2 linked regions of the Homo sapiens genome follow. The protein of the gene in region 1 purifies or fractionates together with the protein of each later gene. This does not show direct contact. Each region holds a gene or a part of one and is shown in the gene's direction. Other genes may lie near its edges.

The links.
Region 2: the proteins of OPA1 (region 1) and TRIM22 purify together in Homo sapiens (affinity purification with western blotting; one study listed by BioGRID). This does not show direct contact.

What each region holds. Positions count from the first base shown.
Region 1 is NC_000003.12:193,641,331-193,645,479, forward strand, and holds part of OPA1 (dynamin-like GTPase OPA1, mitochondrial), read left to right. Parts: intron 1-1,434; coding exon 1,435-1,515; intron 1,516-1,644; coding exon 1,645-1,719; intron 1,720-2,042; coding exon 2,043-2,114; intron 2,115-2,197; coding exon 2,198-2,297; intron 2,298-2,644; coding exon 2,645-2,775; intron 2,776-4,149. UniProt on the Homo sapiens protein: Dynamin-related GTPase that is essential for normal mitochondrial morphology by mediating fusion of the mitochondrial inner membranes, regulating cristae morphology and maintaining respiratory chain function.
Region 2 is NC_000011.10:5,703,290-5,706,789, forward strand, and holds part of TRIM22 (E3 ubiquitin-protein ligase TRIM22), read left to right. Parts: intron 1-3,304; coding exon 3,305-3,327; intron 3,328-3,500. UniProt on the Homo sapiens protein: Interferon-induced E3 ubiquitin ligase that plays important roles in innate and adaptive immunity.

The sequences.
Region 1 (4,149 bases):
TTGTTTCCCTAGAGCAGTGAAAGTGCCAAAACCCCAGCTTAGCATTTTAACCTCCTTAGCAGCTTCTTTCTGCTTGGTTTCCTAAAATGTGAATGCCGTGAAAGGAAATTGTGCGCAGGATGTAGGGTTTTGTTTTGTTTTGGAGGTTTATTTCTGCAGTTCATTTTTCTTTGGGATTGTGGCACCTTAAGACGTGACTACTTAATAACTCGGAATTCCAATCTTGTCTACTCAACCCAGTGAAACTGCTACACATTTTAAGTTTTTCTCTTGGGCCTTTGCCCTGTGCTACAAATCAGCAAATCCTCTGATGGAAAATAGCTAAACAGCTTTCCAACAGCTGTTTATTGTTTTTAAATTTAGCCTGTTTAGCTAATCTCAGTAGAAGGAATTGTATTTTTAAAGTAAAATAACTATAGAGAAGCTAGAAAGGTGTCAATTAGGCATTTAGAAGTTCTTGTGAAACCACTGACTGTTAATATACATTGCTATAACATTTCTTGGCTGGGTGCAGTGGCTCATGCCTGTAATCCCAGCACTTTGGGAGGCTGAGGAGGGCGGATCACCTGAGGTCAAGAGTTCAAGACCAGCCTGGCCAACATGGCGAAACCCTGTCTCTACTAAAAGTACAAAAAACTTGCCAGGTGTGGTGGCGGGCATCTGTAATCCCAGCTACTCGGGAGGCTGAGGCAGGAGAATCACCTGAAACCGCGAAGTGGAGGTTGCAGTGAGCCGAGATCATGCCACTGCACTTCAGCCTGGGCGACAGAATGAGACTCGGTCTCAAAACAAACAAAAAAACAAACAAAACAAAATTTCTTACCCAAATATCACTCCTTGAGTGAAGCCTGTCGTAGCTCCCTTATCATCAGTTCCATTCTCTTCTGTGGCACCCTAGGTTTTGTCACTCTCTTCTATTATGTCTGTGTATATTTCTCCCAGCATGTGATGAGGTCTAAAACTGGGACAGTCAGCTCTGTGTTTCCCCACCTACAACACCTGACACATAGTTCACTCTCTATAGAGGTTGAATGAATGAATTGTCCTTTACCTAAATTCATCTTTGAGGTTAAATGCAAGGTTTCCTTTTAGTGTTTCAAGTTTTAGAGAGATGATTTTGGGCTTAGTGCTGTGTATAGCATTGACTGGGGAAAGAAAGAGGCAGCAGCATTTTAGGTCATAAGCGATATAAAGGAACCAGCATTCTTGTTGGGAAATCACAACATATATGACATATATACAAACAATACAAATACAAAATTATTGTCTTGTCAGAACTACCATGTTGACAGCTTCAGGGGGTGCCCCAGCAGTAGTGTGAAGGGACTCTTGGATTTGTGCAATGCAGTAGCCCTGTCTAGACCACATACGGGCTGTGGGAATTAATATTACTTATAAATACATCATTACCTCTCAGTTTTCTGTTACTATCAGGTGACTCTGAGTGAAGGTCCTCACCATGTGGCCCTATTTAAAGATAGTTCTCGGGAGTTTGATCTTACCAAAGAAGAAGATGTAAGTAAAATTCATCTAAGGTTGATATGTGTAATTTTATAACCTGGATGAGCTTATAAAAGACAGTTAAAGAATATTTGTGAATTAAGATTTTCTTAGATTTTCTTAGGATTTTGTGTTTTCCATTAGCTTGCAGCATTAAGACATGAAATAGAACTTCGAATGAGGAAAAATGTGAAAGAAGGCTGTACCGTTAGCCCTGAGGTAAGGGTTGCAATTCATTTCAGTGACGTTTTATGGAAATTAAATGTTTATGATTTCAAATAAATCAAAATCTAGGTATTGATGTTTAGATTGCTGCTATCTAGATATGTAGAGCTTTTAAAAAAAAATCCAAATAATATATCATTTTGTGGGTAATTTTCCAGAATAATTACTTTTAGGATCAGAGAAAGAATACCATTTTTGTGAGCGTCTTATCTGAATGGATGAGATATAGAATTTTTAGAATACATTTCACCAAAAAAAATTCTTGACAAATTCCCCCCAAACTTTAGCATTGTTTTATTTTTATTTTTCCTGAGTAGACCATATCCTTAAATGTAAAAGGCCCTGGACTACAGAGGATGGTGCTTGTTGACTTACCAGGTGTGATTAATGTAAGTATATACAAAACATGTATTTTATTTTATTCTTATTGTGTGAAGCATTTATAATGACATTTAAAACCTTTTTCTTTAAGACTGTGACATCAGGCATGGCTCCTGACACAAAGGAAACTATTTTCAGTATCAGCAAAGCTTACATGCAGAATCCTAATGCCATCATACTGTGTATTCAAGGTAAATCATATCAAAAGATTTTAATGTACTGATATGTTTTCTTCTTTAGCAATCCAAGCTTTGCATTAAATAGTTTGTGTTATGTAAACATACAAGATAAATGCATTTTTGCCTTCTCTTCGTATTCATTTTATTAGTAAATTAAATTGAAGTTGAAATTATTTTGATAAGTTTTACATAAGCATCATTGAAATTTTTATCGGCTAGGATTTCTTTTTAGTAAATAACGTAAATGTATTAAAATCTTTCTTGCTATAATGTAGACACAGGGGTATAATTTGTACTGAGTTTTAAAAGTCTACTTTACATCTTAAAATTCCACAGTGTCATTTTTTTATTTTTTTCAGATGGATCTGTGGATGCTGAACGCAGTATTGTTACAGACTTGGTCAGTCAAATGGACCCTCATGGAAGGAGAACCATATTCGTTTTGACCAAAGTAGACCTGGCAGAGAAAAATGTAGCCAGTCCAAGCAGGGTGAGGTCAAATTCTTTGTTGCGAGAATAGATTCTTTGTAAAAGCTCCAGCTGTGATAGGGATTTGTTATTTAAAAAAACAACAACAACAACAAAAAAACACCTTACAACTAAGATTTATTACAATGAAAGGATAAAGCAAAATCACAAAAGGAAATGGTACATGGTATGAAGTCTGAAGGAAACCAGGCTCACGTTTTTCCACTAGTTCATTCCCAGTAGACTCTACTGGGCACATTTAATTCCTCCAGCAACAAGCTGCTTGTTAGAGACTCAGCTCCTAAGGTTTTCATCGGAGGTTAGTCATTTCGGCACCCTCATGTACCAAAATTATTTCATACTCCCAAAAGGAAAGCATATGTTATAATTAAACCACATTACTTCAGTAGTGAGCCACTGTTATATAAGGAAAGGTTTATATCAGTGTAGGGAACTGTTTACCAGTTAAGTTTTCAGATACCAGCCAAAGACAGGCAGGCCTTTTTAAGGACAGTAGTCTCAGGCCTGCTGTGTTAACCCTTTTCTAGGTAGCCACCATAACCTCTGTTCTGCTTTCTTTTTAAGGGTAAGGCCTGCCGTGGCATTAATGGTTCTGATATGGAGAAGGGGAGAAGTGAGGTAGAAACAAATTTCTGTGGCCTCCTCCCCATCTTTCTTCATTCCTTTCATTTCTTTCAACTCTAGGATAGTGAGTTTATATTTCTTCTGAGATGCAACTGAAGCTTATTTCAGTCCTTTTTGTATAAAAGATTCAGCATTAGCTTAGGTGTAACTTGTCTTAAAGGAGGGATTCTCATCCCATTATTAATCTGAATGGGCTTCAGGGGGTAGAAACTCTAACATATGTGAAAGGTCTCTATGCAAATATGCATTTTTCTGGGTACATAGTCTTTTTTTTTTTTTAGTCACATTTAGAAATGGATTTTTGATCCTAAAAGAGTTGAGAAGCAGTGGATCCAAATATTAAAGAAGAAGGTGGGAGGGGAGGAAGGAGTAAAAGAAGACAATCCAGCTTGGTTAGAATTTAGATATTTGAAGAAAGTATGGAAAAATAATAATAGCTACCATTTATTGAGTGCTTCATGCCTGGCACTGTATCATATTGTCCCATAATCTCACCAACCTTTTTGAAAAAATTAAGTTGTTTACTTAAGGTCGCATAACTACTAGGCAGCAGAGCAGGAATTCAAACTAAGGTCTGTCTGACTTTAAAGAACTACACATCATTCCGGGTTTTCGATACGTGTGTTTTAATAATACATTTTCAATGTAGTAAAATTAAATGTATTTTTTTCAAATAGCAATGGAAAAACATTTTAAATGCTTTTGTGCAGATTTATTTAACTATATACATGTATAGCATTATTTTGCTTTC
Region 2 (3,500 bases), on another chromosome or scaffold:
ATGCAGTGCTTGATTTTCAGTTCCCGTGTTAATTTGCTTAGGATTATGGCCTCCAGCTGCATCCATGTTGTTGCAAAGGACATAATTTTATTCTTTTTTTTTCTTTTTTTTTTTGAGATGGAGTCTTGCTCTGTCACCCAGGCTGGAGAGCAGTGGCGCAATCTTGGCTCACTGCAAGCTCTGCTTCCCGGGTTCAGGCCATTCTCCTGCTGCATCCTCCCGAGTAGCTGGGACTACAGGCGCCTGCAACCACGCCCGGCTAATTTTTTGTATTTTTAGTAGAGACGGGGTTTCACCTTGTTAGCCAGGACAGTCTCGATCTCCTGACCTCGTGATCCGCCCACCTCAGCCTCCCAAAGTGCTGGGACTACAGGCATGAGCCACCGCGCCCGGAAATTTTATTTTTTTTATGACTATGTAGTATTCCATGGTGTATATGTACCACATTTTGTTTATCCAGTCTACTATTGATGGATACCTGGGTTGATTCCATGTCTTTGCTACAAGCAAGAAAACAAAGAACCCCATTAAAAATGGGCAAAAGTCATGAACAGACATTTATCCAAAGAAGACATACAGGTGGCCAACAAACATATGAAAAAATGCTCATCATTGCTAATAACCTGAGAAATGCAAATCAAAACCACAACGAGATACCATCTCACAACAGTCAGAATGGCTATTATTATAAAGTCAAAAATTAACAGATGCTAGTGAGGCTACAGAGTAATGGGAACATGTACTCTGTTGGTAGAAATGTAAATTATTTCAGCCATTGTAGAAAGCAGTCTGGAGGTTTCTAAAAGAACTTAAAACAGAGCTACTGTTAGACCCAGCAATCCCCCTGCTGGGTATATACCCAAAGGAAAATAAATCATTCTACCAAACCAAATATAGTTTTACTTCTCTTTCATGCTAGATGTCTTATTTCTTTTTATTTTTACTCTTTTCTTCTTTATCTTTCTTTTTTTTTCTTTATTGCACTTGATAAAACTTCCAATACAATGTTGACCTTAGTGGTGAAACCACACACGCTAGTCTTTTTCTTGATTTTAGGAGGAAGTAATTCAGACTTTCACTATTAATTATGTTATTAGTTGTATACTACTTATACATGTTTCTTATCAGTTTTTAGGATGTTCTCTTTTATTATCAGTTTGTTGAGAGGTTTTATCTGAATGGATGTTGATTTTCTTGTTGAATTTTAGGAGTCATTTATAGATTCTGGATATTAATACCTTATCAGACATATAATTTGTAAATATGCTTTCCCATTCTGTAGATTGCCTTTTCGCTCTCTTCATAGTGTTCTTCATAACTTAAAAGTGATTTTTTTAAAGTTTCATTTTGGTAAAGATCTGTTTATTTATTTTTTTCTCACATTGCCTTTACTTTTTGTATCATAGCCAACAAATCACTACCAAATCCAATGTCATGCAATTTTCCCCTTTTCTTCTAGGAGTTTTATATCTTTAGGTCTTTGATTTATTTTTAGTTATAGTGGTTATATGGTATAAGTTATCTATTTTTAATGTTATTGTAGCCATTGTATTATATTGTGCCCTGTTTCACAAACAGTTTGGTAATAAGGGTGAAGAGGTGGCAGAGAGCTGAGGAATGTGCCATTTTTTGCAAACAGTTTGGTAATAAGGCTGAAGACGTGGCAGACAGCTGAGGAATGGACCATAGAGGACAATATTTGTTTGTCTGTCTAACCTCTATTCCTTTTGATTGTTTCTTTATAATAACTTTTGAGGAACCATCCCTACCCTGCCTCATTCCCTGCAGTTGGTTAAAGTAGACAAAATTAGTAGCATTAGGCATGTATATGTTACTCAGTTCTGGCAAATCATTATATCCAACTCTTATATTTTTACCAACTTTACAGTAATTATTTTAAGATATATACTTGACTCAATTGGAGTCGATGGTTTGCATGCCTTAGAATTTTACTGTCATGAGTAAAAAGAGCCGTTGTCTTTTCTGATGGGTATCATATCAGGGATAATAATTTAAACCAGGAGAGTCAAGCTGATGCCATAATTAATCTGAAAATAAGTCAATATAATAGGTATGAAATATAATTTTTAGAAGAAAAACCAGATTCTGATGGCAAGATTTTAGTTTAAAGATGTAGCTATGAGTAAAATTATACTTGACCCCTTGAATTTGTTTTTTAAAAATTTAAACCAGTTTTAGTTGGTTTTGTCAGATATTACAACAACAAAAAAGCTAATACAGGCAGTGAAACTATTTCTGAGGGTGTGAAGTCAACTGGAGGTCAAGTCTTTGTTGGTATAAAGGGGGTCAGATCAGACAGCGGGAGATCAAATATATTGGTACATACTTGTTCAAAAAAATAAAGGAAATAATGGTTATGGTGAGAAAGAAAAGATAGCTAAAAACAGTTAAAAATGTAAACTAGTCTAGGTTAATAAAATGTTGGAATCCAGGATAAAATTTTATAGTTTCAAAGATGATGACTAAGTGGATATTGACACTATTCGGGACAGTGGGGTGTAAATAGTTGGGAAATAGTAAGTTACATTTAAGACCTACTCAGTTACTTGGTCCTGTGGCTTGTTTCATACTGAAAAATGTATGAGATCACCTACAGTGGAGTTTAGTCAGCATACACAGTGAGTACATGGAGGCCAGACAAACTTTTAGTTGAAATGCTTGCTTGCTTTTGCTCACGGCAACAGTACACTTCTTAAGGACTTTTATTATTAATTTTCATCATTAGATCCCTAAAGCCTGAAAAAATATAGGGCAAACGTATTTCGCTGTTTTGTGTCTGTTGATGTATAAAATAAAAACACAATGAATTAATGAGGTTTTCTCATTAAAAATGTATAAAAATATTAGAGCTCCTCCCTCTTTTTAAAATATATTCCTTCTTGAGATACTTGAAGCATCTTCCTAACACCCTCATCTTAGTCCTCTGCAGTGGTCAGTCTGAATCTTATCTCCACACTTTGTCCCCAGTCTGTGACCATCTATTTATTCCCACCATATCCAGGGATAGTAAGAGTGTGGGGAGGAAGGTGGATAAAACTTTGTAAGATAGGAGGGCCTATTACTTTTTTGAGCATTGCTAGACAAAATACAGGATGCTCAGTTAAAGTTTAATTTCAGATAAAAGAAATGTAATATTTTTAGTATAAGAATATCTTAAATATTATAAGGGTCATATATATAACAAAAAATATATTGTTTATCCCAAATTCTAATTGAACTAGCCACTTTTATGTTCTAAATCTGGCAACCCTATCTTGACTCATGTTTTCTATCTTTTCCCCAGGATGTGATTGACGTCATGAAAAGGTATATGTGGAAGAGAGATGTGGTCTTATTTGTCTGAAAAGAGAATTATAGTCCTGAGAGATATCTTCCTTCAATCAGAACAACTTAAAAAATCAAAAGGCTGGGAAATTTGTGTATTAAATTGTCCCAAATTGCTAGTCACAGATTAAAGTTTTCAATTGTAAGAAATTTTG